3 separate regions of the Homo sapiens genome follow, and regions 1 and 3 are each reported to be linked to region 2. Evidence: microRNA targets listed by miRTarBase, many of them from high-throughput screens and not tested one by one. Region 2 holds a microRNA gene; each other region holds the end of a gene's coding sequence.
What was found. The annotated mature microRNA hsa-miR-1914-5p reads CCCUGUGCCCGGCCCACUUCUG and lies in region 2 at 1,632-1,653, opposite strand. An mRNA with a match to its seed (bases 2 to 7 or 8) in the 3' UTR can be bound and repressed. Matches are read on the target gene's strand: a 7mer-m8 pairs with bases 2 to 8, a 7mer-A1 pairs with bases 2 to 7 and ends in A, and an 8mer does both.

Region 1 (5,071 bases), not on the chromosome of region 2:
CTTCAGGCACACACCACCATACCTAGCTAATTTCTTAATTTTTTTGTAGAGTTGAGGTCTTGCTACGTTGCCCAGGCTGGTCTAGGAACTCCTAGCCTCAAGTGATCCTCTTGCCTCAGCCTCCCAAAGCACTAGGGTTACAGGCATAAGCCACCATGCCCAGCCCTCTCTGCCTTTCTGACTTGGATTTGAATTCTGTCTCTACCACTTAATAGCTCTAATGACCTTGGGCAACTCAGGTAGCTTCCCTGATCCTCAGTTTCCTGAATTACATAATAAGATTAGTATTAATACTTAGTTCATAGGGATATGGTGAAAATTAAATGAAACCATGAATGTAAAGCATTTAGTACAATCCTTAGAATGAATTCTCCATCAATAAATGTTACCCTCTGTTATTATTATCGTTATTGAATTGTTATGGATTATGTAAGTCATTTATAAAGGCACTGAATAAATGATAGTTATCGTTACCGCCACCACCACACAACCCCACCAAAACCAGTCCTTTTGGTATCCCAGGCGCTCCTCTCTCTAGGATGACCCCTTCAATGCATGTCAGCTACTCTTTGACCAAACCTCACAATGATTTGCCTAATGTTCCTGTTTTTTTCCTTTTCAGACCTGAAAGAAGACTATAATCAATGGAACAACCTTATTGAAGGCATTGGACCGTCGCTCACCCCAGGGGCCCCCCACCATCTGTCCAGCCTGTAGGCACAACTGGCCATTTGTAAAGTCACTTCAGCCAAGTTTTCATTTGGGAGCTACCCAAGGGCACCCATGAGCTCCTATCAAGAAGTGATCAACGTGACCCCTTTTCACAGATTGAAAGGTGTAATCACACTGCTGCTTGGATAACTGGGTACTTTGATCTTAGATTTGATCTTAAAATCACTTTGGGACTGGGATCCCTTGCTGATTGACAAACAGACTTTCTGGGACCTTGATGGAGTGGGGAACAAGCAGTAGAGTGGGACTGGGGGAGACCCAGGCCCCGGGCTGAGCACTGTGAGGCCTGGATGTGAAGACTCAGCCCAGCGAAGCTCATTCCCTTACCCCCGGCCAGTGCTGCTGCTTCAGTGGAAGAGATGAAGCCAAAGGACAGAATGAAAATCCCTACCTTCAGAGACTCTAGCCCAGCCCAACACCATCTCTTCCTACCTCTCAGCCTTCTCCCTCCCCAGGGCCACTTGTTGAAGTCTGAGCACTTTATGTAAATTTCTAGGTGTGAGCCGTGATCACATTTTCTATTTATTTCCAAGTCTTCTCATTGTATGGAACATAGTACTACTTATACTTACAGTAGTAAGTTATACTTGTGAGCCCACAGAGTGGCAGACAGCATGGCTCTCACAGCACAGGGAGAAAAACTGAGGTACACAGAGGTACCTCAGAAGCTCTGGATGTCTTTGGGGGTTTTGCTAAGTGTATCTTGATAGGAAACAACAAAAGCAGGTTGAGATGGGGAAGATGACAGAACAACAGTGTTAAATGGCCATTTGCACAGGCCTTTGCCACAACAGAGAAGTAGTTTGGTCAGCTAAAACTCAGCTGCAGCCTGGACAGTAGAGCGAGACCCCATCTTAAAAATAAAGAAGGCTGGGCGTGGTGGCTCATGCCTGTAATCCCAACACTTTGGGAGGCCAAGGCAGGCAGATCACTTAAGGCCAGGAGTTCAAGACCACCTGGCCAACATGGTGAAACCCCGTCTCTACTAAAAATACAAAAAATTAGCCTGGCGTAATGGCAGGCGCCTATAATCCCAGCTACTCAGGAGGCTGAAGCAGAAGAATCACTTGAACCTAGGAGGCGGAGGTTGCAGTGAGTCAAGATCGCGCCACTGCACTCCAGCCTGGGTGACAGAGCAAGACTCTGTCTTAAAAAAAAAAAAAAGAAAAAGAAAAATTTAAAATAAATAAAATTTAAAAACGCAGAAGGCCACTCCCAGAGAGGCCTAGGAGTACCTTGGTCATTTTTTCTTGCCTCAAATATTATAAACCTCCAACTTGCTCAGAATCAGGGTGCTTTTATTGTCTGTTTTCTGGCTCTGAGGCCCTTGCCCCAAATTTAAGTCAGATACAGACTGAATTTCCATTCTGTTCTGTTTATAATATGAATGATATTAATACTCTTGTTTGCTTAATGTTATGTTGGAATTTTCTGTTTAATCTGCAGTAGAGCAAGATGGAGAGCCATCTGGAATTGACTTCCTTCTGTCTTTCTTCTGTGTTCGCTTACTACTTGGGCCCATGTGGGAAAAAAACTTTAAAAGGAAGGAAGTCTTCTTAGGGATCCAGTTCAAAGCTATTTGGGGGCATCAAACTGAAACTCTCTTCTCCACTACTCAAGACTTCGTGCCTCAGTCCAAGTAGGTAAGAGCAAAAGGGAAATGCATCTCTACACAATGGCCCATGGTCAGGGCCACCAGAGCAAGCTGGGCCTAGATCTCCACCTGTCAGTGACTGGCCATTCTAAGAGGTGAAACAGCAGATCGTTGAGGCTGTGAGGGAGGATCTTTGAATTCCCATGAGACATAGCATAAGAAGGGTATCATTAAAGCCCTGGGCTCTAAAGTTACAGAGCCTGGTTTTGAGTCCTGGCTCCACCACTGCCAACTGGGTAAATTTGAGCAAATGGTATTCTCTTTCTTATCTCAGCTCCTGCGTTTCTAAAATGAGGGTCTGCGTTATGAATAGTTAGGAGGATTAAGTGAGAGGATGTATAACCCATGGGTTACTTAAAAGTATATTTCCTACCTTCCAAACATGAGATTTTTCTAGTTATAGTTTCTTTTCTAGCTTGATTGCTTTGTGGTCAGAGAAAATGACCCATATGGTTTCCATCCTTCAAAATTTGTTGAAACTTGGTTGTTGGCCTAGTATGAGATCAATGTTGTAAATGTGCCATGTATGTTTAAAAAGACTATATATTCTGAAGAAGTTGTTGGCTTGCTCTTTTACTCAAGAACACATCATAGATTTCTGTCTTTTTTTTTTGAGATGCAGTCTCACTCTGTCACCCAGACTGGAGTGCAGTAGCATGATCTCGGCTTACTGCAACCTTCGCCTCCCAGATTCAAGCAATTCTCCTGTCTCAGCCTTCTGAGAAGCTGGGACTACAAGTGCACGCCACCACACCCAGCTAATTTTTGTATTTTTTTAGTAGAGATGGGGTTTCACCATATTGGTCAGGCTGGTCGCAAACTCCTGACCTCAGATGATCCACCTGCCTCGGCCTCCCAAAGGGCTGGGATTACAGGCATGAGCCACCGTGCCGAGCCCATAGATTTCCTTCTATGAGAGCACAGACAGATATATAATGGGGCCTTCCAACTACCACATGGGCACCAGAGACCCTCAGCACTTGCAGAACCAGCCGTAGGCCAATCCTGAGCATACGCCACCCTTGTGCTGATTCCACAAATGCTGAGAGGCCGGTTCTGGCAGTAGCAGCATGTGAGACCCAGGTTCTACCTTAGCTCCATAAATAACACAGGTAAATTTTACAAAACCATGAACAAGAGACCTGGAGCCTCCCTAGTGAAGGGAGTGTTCCAGAAACTAGATCCCTTTCCTTCATTCAATTCATGTTCTGGTAATCACTCATTTATCCAGCAAACACTAGAGTATGTGAATTTTCCATATAATTGAAAATTATCCTAGAGGCAGCAAAATATAATATTGATTATTTTGAATGGTAATCTACCAAAAAGATAATACACACACTTTTTAATCAAAGTGAGCTGACCTCGTTCAACCTTTTAGGATGTTCCAGTCAGGATAGACTAGGTTGTATGGTGGTAACAGGCAATCCCAAAAGCAACAAAAGTTTATTTCTTGCCCATGCCACTTGTGCTCTTTGATCGGCTGCAGGCTCTGCTCTGCATCATTTTTATCCTCACTCTAGGATCCAGGCTGGTAGAGCTGCCATTATCAGAAAGTGTTGCTGTTCACCATGGTGGAACAGGAAGAAAGCCTGATGAATCACCCGCTAGCTCTGAGAGCTTCTGCCCGGGAGTGACTCTCGTTATTTCTATTCATGTGTCATAAGCCAAAGCACGTCCTGTGGCCATTCCTAACATCCCAAGAAAGCCAAAATATTTGTGACCAGGTCTCATGTCAGAGAAGTGGTGTCCTCTGATCTAGGAAGGTGCAGAAAGCTGTTTGGCTTGCATGGGGTTGCCCCCTGTGCTGCGTTGCTGTTCAGAGTTGGTGTTGTCTCATTTGTGGTCAGGCTGCAACCATCGCTCTTCAACGCACCAGCCCCTAGCAGCCCTCCCTGGCCACTTCAAGTTTATGACTTTCGATGCGCAATGGACTGATAAATCAGCCACATTATTTAAAACTCTGTCTAAGGGAAAACAAGGCAGTCAGTGAGCAAGGGTTTTAGGGACTCCCTTGCAGCTAAAGTATGTCACCTTTAGCGCATGGGCTTCGTAATCCTCTGACTGCTCCAGAAGGGGTATCACAAGGCCTTTGGTCTCTCATTCTGGTTTTTGGTTAGCTTCCAGGGGCCTGAAGGATACTTCATAAATGGCCTTTAGATAAGCAAGGAAATCCTGATGATAACTGACATGTGCTGATAAATTGCATCCTAGTGAATCTTTTCCAGAAAGAGGATGTCTTGGGTTTCTTTTCTTTTTTTTTTTTTTTTTAGTAGAGGCGGGGTTTCACTGTGTTAGCCAGGATGGTCTTGATCTCCTGACCTCGTGATCCACCCGCCTCGGCCTCCCAAAGTGCTGGGATTACAGGCATGAGCCACCGCGCCCGGCCTGTCTTGGGTTTCTTTGGCATCTTCTCATTCCCCATCCCGCTGCAAGACTCTGTGCCTATGGAGGCCTCCTAGTGGTATAATGTGAAGTTTCTGTGCATGGGATGGCAAGCCAGTTAGGAAGGAAGGTAAGTAAATATCCCTTCCACTTCCTGGACTTCAGACTAAGGCTGGTTGGATTCTTGCTGTGTCCCTAATGCAATCCCCGAGCCCCTTCCACTGTGCATTCTGACACAGCTGCCCCTCTTGTCCTTCCTCAAAAATTCTATTGGGCTCTTGAAATGTCAAATGATGGATT
Region 2 (5,074 bases):
ACTAGTAACATTTTAAAAATTAACATCTTTGTATTCAGCAGTCCTGGGTCAGGAGGCAGGAGGAGGGTGGTGGGGACGGGATGGCTCACTGGGCAGCTAACCCGTGTAGGCCACTTCCTCCTCGTCACTGCCATCGGGGACCGCGTCTGTCCCAAAGTAGCGGTCGCCAAAGTTCCCTGGAAAAAGGGGGGGGGGGGTCCAGTGTGGTGGGGCCTCCCAGGGCCACCCACCCTGCCCTCATGTGCGGCTGAAGGGCCCGGGCAGCCTCACCAATGCCTGGGATGATGCGGAAAAGGTCATTGACCCGCTTGTCCACCGCCGTGGTGATGATTCTCACTCGCGGAAATGCATAGGCCACTGAGTGCACGCCCATCTCTGCCATGAGCAGCGACAGCAAAAAGATCTTGTCCTCAGGCACGTCGTGGTCCTACCGAGTGTATTGGGCAGGTAAATCCCACCTCTGCCTGAACCTGCCCCGCCTACCCAGGGCTCACTCACCAGGAGCACGCGCACTGCCATCATGGCCGCCGCGCCCGTGGACACGGTGCAGTCCATGAGGATCACGTGGTCATCGCTGATGTCCTTGGGCAGCCTCAGGTAGTGGAGCTGCGGGCAGCAGGGGTCAGGCTGCAGGTGGGGCTCCCTGCGTCCCCTTGCTGTGAGCTCCCTCTGCCCCCTACCCCCGGGCTCATCACCCCGGCTGCCCCCAGGCACCTCGGGCTCCCCGGTAAGCTGGTTGGTCTGGATGAGGATGGTGCCGATGCGCACGTCTTTGCACACAGCGCGCAGCGCGGGCTCCATGGTTTCACCGGCGCGCAGAATGGACACACCGGTGATCTGCGGGGAGGGGAGGCTAAGCGCCCACATCCCGCCCCAGCAGCCTGTCCCGCGCCCAGGTGTGCCCAGGCAGGTACCTGCTTCCCCGCATAGCACTTGCCCGCATAGTCCTGCCCCTGCGGGGTCTGTACGACGCAGTCCTGTGGGGTGCAGGGTGAGGACTCCGGTGAGCGCAGGGAGCTCGCACCGGCTCCAAGACCCACCCTCCACCTCGCGGGCTACGGGCTACGAACCTGAAAGGGCAGGAAGGAGAGCGCGTGCTCGATGAGCAGCCGCATCAGTCTCTTGGAGTAGAAGATGAACTCGTCGCGACTGGTCTCCTTGTCCCTGTGGGGCCAACAGTTGAGCGGGAGCACGCGCCCGGGGCCGCCCCGTCCCCAGGTGGGCCCTCACCTGATGATGGTGTGCATGCCCCGTACCTGCGGCGTGCTCTTCAGGACGCTCAGCGTCCGGGGCAGCGGGTGGCACTGGTGTGCCGAGGCCAGCGCAGCCCTGGGGACAAACCGATGGGGAACACTCAAGAAGGGGGTCTTTTCCCAGAGCCCTCCCTCCCCACAGGACGGCTGTGCGTCACTGTGAGGGGAACACACGGGCCAGGCACAGCACGAGGTGCAGAGCGGGCCTGACTTCTGCCTGGGGCTGAGCTGGGGGGAGACGTCGCCCTACCTGAGCTGTCAGGCAAAGGCGAAAGATGGCGGCGAACAACGGGGCAAGCTCACCATCAGGCAGAAAGCTAGCGGGGTAGGCTGTGAGGGCCCCTCCCAGTGCGGGACCCCTCCTGCGCTAAGAGGAAGCAGAAGTGGGCCGGGCACAGGGCGGGCTCACACGTGCTGATAGGTGTCATACCCCAGAATGGGTAGCTTGTCCCCAGCCTCTCCCCGGGGGAACTAAAGCTTTGTGGGGTCAGGCCCCGCCCTGGCTCCTCCCCGAGGTGGTGCGCGGCCCCTCAAGAGAGGGGGGTGGGGGGCAAAGCTGGCTCAGTGTCTCTTGGCTGTCCCGTCCCGCCCCGCTGCCCAAGCCTGGGGATGGCCGGGGCAGCAGCAGGTCTAGGAGCGGGCAGGAAAAGGGCGGGGTGGAGGCAAGAAAGAGGTGGGACAGGGAGGAGGCAAAGCCGGAAAGGGGCATGACAGGGGCAGGGAATGGGGCGGGGCAGGAAAGGGGGTGATGCAGGGGCAGGAAGAGGAAAGCGACAGGCCACAGAATTGGGTGTGGCAGGGGAAGGAAAGAGGCAGGGCACGGAATTGGGTGTGGCAGGGCAGAAAAGAGGCGTGACAGCGGCAGGGAAAGGGGCGGGGCCGGGAATGGGGTGTGGCAGGGCAGAAAAGAGGCGTGACAGCGGCAGGGAAAGGGGCGGGGCCGGGAATGGGGTGTGGCAGGGCAGAAAAGAGGCGTGACAGCGGCAGGGAAAGGGGCGGGGCCGGGAATGGGGTGTGGCAGGGCAGAAAAGAGGCGTGACAGCGGCAGGGAAAGGGGCGGGGCCGGGAATGGGGTGTGGCAGGGCAGAAAAGAGGCGTGACAGCGGCAGGGAAAGGGGCGGGGCCGGGAATGGGGTGTGGCAGGGCAGAAAAGAGGCGTGACAGCGGCAGGGAAAGGGGCGGGGCCGGAAATGGGGTGTGGCAGGGCAGAAAAGAGGCGTGACAGCGGCAGGGAAAGGGGCGGGGCAGGAGCAGGAAAGAGGGCCTAGCGGGAGCAGCGGGGCAAGGGGCTACGGGAAGGCGGGTCACACAGCAGCACCACGGAGCACACTGCTCACATATCCCAACGTAGCTTCCTCTGCTTGCCAGGTGAAGAGCATGTTCAGGGAGGGAACAAGGCAGGAAACGGGGGTTTACAGAGAGAAGGAAGAGAACAAAGAGAAGGCTGCTTAGTTGGGGAGCAGGGCGTTCCCCGCAGGCCTGAGGAGGAGTGTGGGCGGTCAGGCCCCCAGCCCTGCCTGACCCTCCCTCCTGCCCCCGACCAAGGCTTCCTGGGGCTGAAGGAAGTGAGTGCAGCCACAGGCCAACACTTCCTTGGCTGACCAGACGACGGAAAATGTGTCTGGCTGCGTTCAGGTGTTTTTCCAAGTTTGAAACCCTGGAAAGTTTTTCCTCTCAGAACAAAAGCTTCAGGAGGAACCTGACGGGACAAGACCTGCGGGTTCCTAGGCCGAGGAGAGGGCCAAGCGGAGACTCATGCAGGCACCGGAAGCTGGACGGCTGGTGGACGGGCCCTGGAGGCATTTCCAACATTTGGCAAACTCTTTGGAGGGCTCTGAATGTGAGGGCTCTCCCTCCAGGTGGCTCAGTCAGGAGCCTCCCAACCCACAGAAGGCAGGGAGAAGGGCAGGTCCCTTGTGGCTGACCCCCCTGCATGCCTGCCCTTGGGGAGGGACAGTGGGATGCGGCCCCGGCCCAGCCCAAGCTTCTTGCTGCAGTTGCCCAGTTCCTGCTGGCAGAGCTGTGCGGGCTGCGAGGACAGAGCTGGGGCAAGCAGGACCCGGGTGGGTGGGAGGACAGGCGCGAGGCCCTCCACCTGCAACCAGGGAAAGCTGACTGGTCCGTGAGGCTGGGCACAGGAGGTACAGCAGGCTCCCTGGCTGCTGGGACATGTCTGTAGTCACTGCCCCAGAGGCCTGGCAGTGCTGGCTCAGGAGGACAGCTGTGCTCTCTGGGGTCAAATCCCATAGACAGACTCAGGAGTCAGGGGAGCCTCCAGCAAAGTCTGGCCAGGACAGGGTCAGGACTCCGTGACGCTGGGCAAGCTACTTCACGTCTCTGTGCCTCAGTGTCCTCATCTGCCAGCAAGGGGAGGCAGAAGCAGGGCTGGGACCACTCCACACCACCCCTTCTGTGACTGGGGAAGAGCCAGCTGCCTGGCTGGATCACAGCCCAGACCCCAGAGCTCCTTGGAGGTGTTGGAAGTGCCTCCATCTGTGCAGACAGCTGTGCAAGTCTTACCTGACGCTGAGTTCACGCTGTGGCAGCAACACAGGAAGACACAAGGGAACGGTGGCGCGTCAGTGACCAGGGCAGGCGGCCAGGCCACCCCCACCCAGGAATGGACATGCTGCAGGCCCGCGGGGACACAGCCAGCCATGGGGGGTGGCAAGCTTCTAATGCCTGTAACCTGGGGACCACCTGGGCCAGACCTGCAGTTCTGCGTTGGGGCAATCAGAGCCAGGACCCTGGGCTCTGTTCTGCAGGCCTCAGGCCTTCAACATCCTGGTAGGGAGTGTGTTCAGAGCCACTCAGGCTCCAAGGCCCAGCCATAGAATGCCTCAGGGAGCAGGGGACCTCTGGTGGGGGTGTCGCTCCTGGGGTGACCCCCTGAGAAAGAGAGGAGCCTGGCCTGGCGTGGGACTCAGCAGTGAAACCCCACAATCCTGGGCCAGCAGGTCATGCCTGTCTTCCCAAAAGCTCAGGCTGGGTGTGCTGAGCGGGCTGCACCCTCGGCTGGGTCCTGAGCACCTGTACCCCCACCCCAGCTTCCTCAGGGAACCCAGGCCCTGCACAGCACAACGGGATGGGGTCTGGGCTGGACAATCTGACTGGCCAAGCAGGCTCAGGACACTCAGGGCTGGCACCTGGCAGGGGACAGTGAACGCAGGGGGATGAGGTGACCAGGCCACTGGGGGTGGTGGCAGCGGAGAAGTGGGTAGAGGGGCTGGGGGCTAGGCCGTGGGGACGTGGGACCCCGCTCACCTCCTCCAGCTGGCTGTGCACGTGCTGCACAATCAGGTCGATGGCCACCGTGTTGCCGCTCCCTGGGGCGGGATGGGGGGGCGGGTGACCGGGGGCTGGGCCGTTGGCCTGCCCGACACCCACCCAACAGGCAGCCCAGCAGGCTCACCTCTGGGGACCACGATGTCTGCCAGGCGCATGGTGGGCTGGATGTACTGGTCGAAGGAGGGCTTGACAAACTTGTTGTACTGCTTGATGACACCCTCGATGTCCCGGCCGCGCTCACTGATGTCCCGGCGCAGCCGCCGTACCAGGCGGATGTCGGAGTCTGTGTCCACAAAGATCTTCATGTCCAGGAGCTGGTGGAGACAGCGGGCCAGTGAGTGGCCAGATGCCAGCAGTGGGCATGGAGACACTGGGACCAGCCCCTGCACTGAGGCCGCCTGGTCCGTGGGCCTGGCCAGAGCCACTTCCCCAGGGCACCCTGGCAGGTGGGGAGGAGTGGGGAGGTGGGGGTGTCTGCACCTGGTCCGTGGGCCTGGCCCGAGCCACTTCCCCAGGGCACCCTGGCAGGTGGG
Region 3 (5,071 bases), not on the chromosome of region 2:
AAACGGTCCTCAACCCTTACTACACATAAGAAAATTCATACTGGAGAGAAACCTTACAGATGTGAAGAATGTGGCAAAGCTTTTAACCAATCTGCAAACCTTACTACACATAAGAGAATTCATACCGGAGAGAAACCCTACAGATGTGAAGAATGTGGCAAAGCCTTTAAGCAGTCCTCAAACCTTACTACACATAAGAAAATTCATACTGGAGAGAAACCCTACAAATGTGAAGAATGTGGCAAAGCCTTCAACCGATCCACAGACCTTACTACACATAAGATAGTTCATACTGGAGAGAAACCCTACAAATGTGAAGAATGTGGCAAAGCCTTTAAGCACCCCTCACACGTTACCACACATAAGAAAATTCATACTAGAGGGAAACCCTACAACTGTGAAGAATGTGGCAAATCCTTTAAGCACTGCTCTAACCTTACTATACATAAGAGAATTCATACAGGAGAGAAACCCTACAAATGTGAAGAATGTGGCAAAGCCTTTCACCTATCCTCACACCTTACTACACATAAGATACTTCATACTGGAGAGAAACCCTACAGATGTAGAGAATGTGGCAAAGCTTTTAACCATTCCACAACCCTTTTTTCACATGAGAAAATTCATACTGGAGAGAAACCCTACAAATGTGATGAATGTGGCAAAACCTTTACCTGGCCCTCAATCCTCTCCAAACATAAAAGAACTCATACTGGAGAGAAACCCTACAAATGTGAAGAATGTGGCAAATCCTTTACTGCATCCTCAACTCTAACTACACATAAGAGAATTCATACTGGAGAGAAACCTTACAAATGTGAAGAATGTGGCAAAGCTTTTAACTGGTCCTCAGACCTTAATAAACATAAGAAAATTCATATTGAACGAAAACCCTACATAGTGAAGAATGTGACAGATCTTTTAAATGTTCCTCCACTTTTAATTAGCATAAGATAATTCATACTGGAGAGAAACCCTATGAATGTGATGAATGTGGGAAAGCCTTTAACCAGCCCTCGACTCTTAGTAAATTTGAGAGTTTATATGGAACACAAACCCTACAAATATAAAGAATGTGACAAAGCTTTTTAAGGAAGTTCTCAACCCTTATTACACATAATTCATACCAAACAGAAGCCCTACAAGTGTGAAGAATGTGGCAAAACCTATAAACCTATAACAAGTTCTCAATTCCTTTTTTTTTGAGATGGAGTTTCACTCTTGTCACCGAGGCTGGAGTGCAATGACATGATCTCCGTTCACTGCAATCTCTGCCTCCTGGGTTTAAGCCATTCTTCTGCCTCAGCCTCCCAAGTAGCTGGGATTACAGGTGCCCAACACCACGCCTGGCTAATTTTTGGATTTTTAGTAGAGATGGGGTTTCACAATGTTGGCCAGGCTGGTCTCGAACTCCTGACCTCAGGTGATCCACCTGCCTTGGCCTTCCAAAGTGCTGGGGTTACAGGCGTGAGCCACCATGCCTGGCTACAAGTTCTTAATTCTTAAGAGACACCATGCCTGGCTACAAGTTCTTAATTCTTAAGAGACATGGCGATAATTCATGCTGAAGAGGAAATCTGGAAACCTGAAAGATGCGACATTGCTTTTACCAACACCTCCACATTTCCTATACATAAAAATAAATTATACTAGTGTAATACCCTAGAAATGTATAAAATGTGACAAAGCCTTTATATGATTGTCATACATGATTGTAGGTGATAGAAGTCATACTGCCAAAACTCCTGTAAGTGTGAAGAATGTGGCAAAATATTTTATTAGTGCTTATACCTTATTTCACAGGAAAGCTCTTATCCTTGAGAAAAATTGTGCAAATACAAAGAATATGGAAAAACCATTAATGCCTACTCACATCTTACTGAACAGAAGAAGGTTCATAGTTAATAAAGCATTAAAAGTGCAATTACTGTCAAAAAATCTTTCAGAAAATAGAAGTCTTTAAAGTGAAGAATATTTATTCTGAAGACAGCCATTACAAATATAAAGGGGGTTGTAGTGCCTTTACTTGTGTCACAGATCTTAGTGCACACATGTAGTACTAGAGGAAAACCCTGAAGCAGTTGCTCAAGCTTTGTTTCAGGGAATCAAGGGAATTTATATTGAGAATAGTACTGCAAATGTAATGAATGGAAAGACTTTTCTTTTCCAAAAATGACAGCTTAGAAAACACCAGAGGGTTTATACCAAAATATATTTTTGCAGATGCAGTAAATATCAAAAAATATTTAATTCAAAATTGATTCTATGTAAATATCAGAGAATTTTCCATAGAATAATTAAGGCACTGACACTTCAGACATTACACTAAATCAGAATGTTCAGTATAAAAACTAATCCACAGCTACAGCTGTTAGATAAATTATTTCTATATAATTTTTTAAAAAGTGGATTTTTGAAGCACTGTAATTACATTGAAAGTATACTTGTTTTCTTGAAAAAATTTTTTTGAAAAGTGAATAATGATATAATACAGCTTTCACATTGCTTTATGCTATTTTATTCCTATTATATTCACATGTGAAAGCATGTGATCAATTGTTGCTGCATTAGAGATATTAGAGATTGTTTTTTATTAGTTGGGCATTATGTATGACCTTTTCTATAAAAGAGTAAGGACATTAAAATGTAAGATGCATGATGAAAATATAAGTGGAGAGGCTCTTTGTAGTTAACTGATATTAAGTAATGTGTAAGGTGGGGGTTCATGTTCTCATTTCTATAATCCTAGCCAATGACTTAATGTTGATGCTTTGAATGTCTTTTGGATGGTCTAACCTACATTAACATGTATGCGGAACATCTTAAAACTTTTTTTCAAAAATCATAATGAATTATTTTATTAATAAGCAAAGATAAAAAATAAGGTGGGGTTTCAGAGTAATGCTTTTCTACATTATAGTGACAGAAAGAAATTATTAATTATAGTTAAAAATATTAAAATACAGCCAGGTATATTTATTGGTTTAGACAGGTTTTAATATAATATTTATGGTTCTTTAAATATAAAGTTGTATGGGATGGGTGCAGTGGCTCATGCCTGTAATCCTAGCACTTTGGGAGGCTGAGGCAGATGGATCACTTGAGGTCAGGAGATCGAGACCAGCCTGACCAACACTGAGAAACCCCACCTCTACTAAAAATACAAAAATTAGCTGGGCATGATGGCACATGCCTGTAATCCCAGCTATTCAGGAGGCTGAGGCAAGAGAATTGCTTGAACGTGGGAGTTCTCAGATTACAGGTGTGCGCCACCATGCCTGGTTAATTTTTGTATTTTTAGTAGAGACGGGGTTTCACCATGTTGGCCAGGCTGGTCCCATACTCCTGACCTGAAGTGATTCGCCCACCTCGGCCTCCCAAAGTGCTGGGATTACAGGCATAAGCCACCGCACCCTGCCTATTTTTTTCTTACTGAAATTTATTATTAGTATTTGTGGGTATATTGTATGTGTATATATTTATGCCTTATATGGTATATTTTGATTCAGGCATACAATATGTAGAAATTTCATTAGGGTAAATAAGATATCCGTCACCTCTAGCGTTTATCATTTGTATTACAAACAGTGTAATTATACACTTTTAGTGCATAATTTAATGAAGCAGGTGGATTGCCTGAGGTCAGGAGTTCAAGATCAGCCTGGCCAATATGGTGAAACCCCGTCTCTACTAAAAATACAAAAATTAGCTGGACGTGGTCGTGCATGCCTGGAGGCTGAGGCAGGAGAATTGCTTGAACCCTGGAGGGACAGTTTTTTAAATAAGATTAAGGACTGAGGACTGGTTGGGGCTCATAAATGATATGAGTAAAGTGTTAGCTAAAACAGAAGAAAAAGGGGTGCCCAAACAAGTCACCTTAAAATTTGATGCCTGTGCTGTCATTAATAGTAATAAGTTAGGAATAAGGTGTGGTTCTCTTAATTAGAAAAGAGGCTATATGGCAGAAAATAAATACAACTGTCATAAATTAGCACTGTGTGGAAATAAATGTGAACACTGGTCTTGTGTCATTTAGGCCACTTGGATTAAAAAAAAAAATGAAAAAGATCCATCCCACCTTCAGAAAGGAAAAAATGGCCCTTCCTGTACTCAGGGACAATGTAACCCCTTAGAGCTAGTCATAACCAATCCCCTTGATCCTCGCTAGAAAAAAAGAGGAGCATGTGACCTTAGGAATCGACGGGGCCAGACTGGATCCTTGAGTAAATATCTTGGTTCGAGAAGCTTACAAAGACTCTCCTGAGCCAGTGTTTCAAACTTTCTATGATGAACTAAATGTGCCAGTACCAGAAATTCCAGGAAAAACAAGAAATTTGTTTTTGCAATTAGCCAAGCATGTAGCCCAGTCTCTCAATGTCACTTCATGTTATGTATGTGGAGAAGCTGTAATAAGAGATCAATGGCCATGGGAAGCCTGAGAATTAGTACCTACAGTACCTGATGAATTCCTGGCTCAAAAGAATCACCCTGATAATTTCTGATCCTAAAAGCCTCAATTATTAAACAATATTGCATAGCTAGAGAAGGAAAAGAATTCACTCACCGCGTAGGATGACTTAGTTGTCGGAGACAGAAACTGTATAATGGTACCACAAAAACAATCACTTGGTGGAGTTCAAATCACACAGAGAGAAAATTTAGTAAATTCTCAAAGTTGCAAACTGGACCCACCTGGAGTCCCACCGGGACTGGACAGCCCCCACTGGATTATACTGGATATGTAGGCATAGAGCTTATGACAGATTACTGACCAGTAGGCAGGTAGTTGTGTTATTGGCACTATTAAACCATCTTTCTTCCTACTGCCCATAAAAACAGGCAAACTCCTTGGCTTCCCTGTCTACGCTTCCCGCGAAAAGAGAATCATAGCTATAAGAAATTGAAAAAATGATAAATGGCCCCCTGAGAGAATCATACAATATTATAGGCCTGCTACTTAGGCACAAGATGGCTCATGGGGATACCGGACCCCCATTTACATGATCAACCGAATCATATGGTTACAAGCTGTCTTAAAAATAATCACTAATAAAACCAGCAGAGCCTTGAC

Region 1: miRTarBase lists PAFAH2 as a target of hsa-miR-1914-5p. Seed matches in the 3' UTR shown: 7mer-m8 at 1,359-1,365 and 7mer-m8 at 1,505-1,511.
Region 3: the mRNA of ZNF253 is a reported target of hsa-miR-1914-5p. Seed matches in the 3' UTR shown: 7mer-A1 at 1,799-1,805.

Annotation. Positions count from the first base shown.
Region 1 is chr1:25,957,635-25,962,705 of GRCh38, reverse strand. It overlaps PAFAH2 (platelet activating factor acetylhydrolase 2), which reads left to right. Exons shown (of 11, transcript NM_000437.4): 11 at 623-2,939. The coding sequence ends at 717. Among named protein-coding and RNA genes, the nearest start is that of PAFAH2, 38 kb to the left of the region's middle.
Region 2 is chr20:63,939,880-63,944,953 of GRCh38, forward strand. MIR1914 (microRNA 1914) reads right to left here and starts at 1,665; the gene lies at 1,586-1,665. It overlaps UCKL1 (uridine-cytidine kinase 1 like 1), which reads right to left. Exons shown (of 15, transcript NM_017859.4): 6 at 4,666-4,855; 7 at 4,518-4,579; 8 at 3,774-3,790; 9 at 1,231-1,329; 10 at 1,071-1,164; 11 at 915-977; 12 at 715-837; 13 at 499-606; 14 at 271-427; 15 at 1-176. The coding sequence ends at 97. MIR647 (microRNA 647) reads right to left here and starts at 2,847; the gene lies at 2,752-2,847. RefSeq lists enhancers at 2,439-3,152, 3,153-3,864.
Region 3 is chr19:19,891,791-19,896,861 of GRCh38, forward strand. It overlaps ZNF253 (zinc finger protein 253), which reads left to right. Exons shown (of 4, transcript NM_021047.3): 4 at 1-2,884. The coding sequence ends at 957. Among named protein-coding and RNA genes, the nearest start is that of ZNF93, 6.6 kb to the right of the region's middle.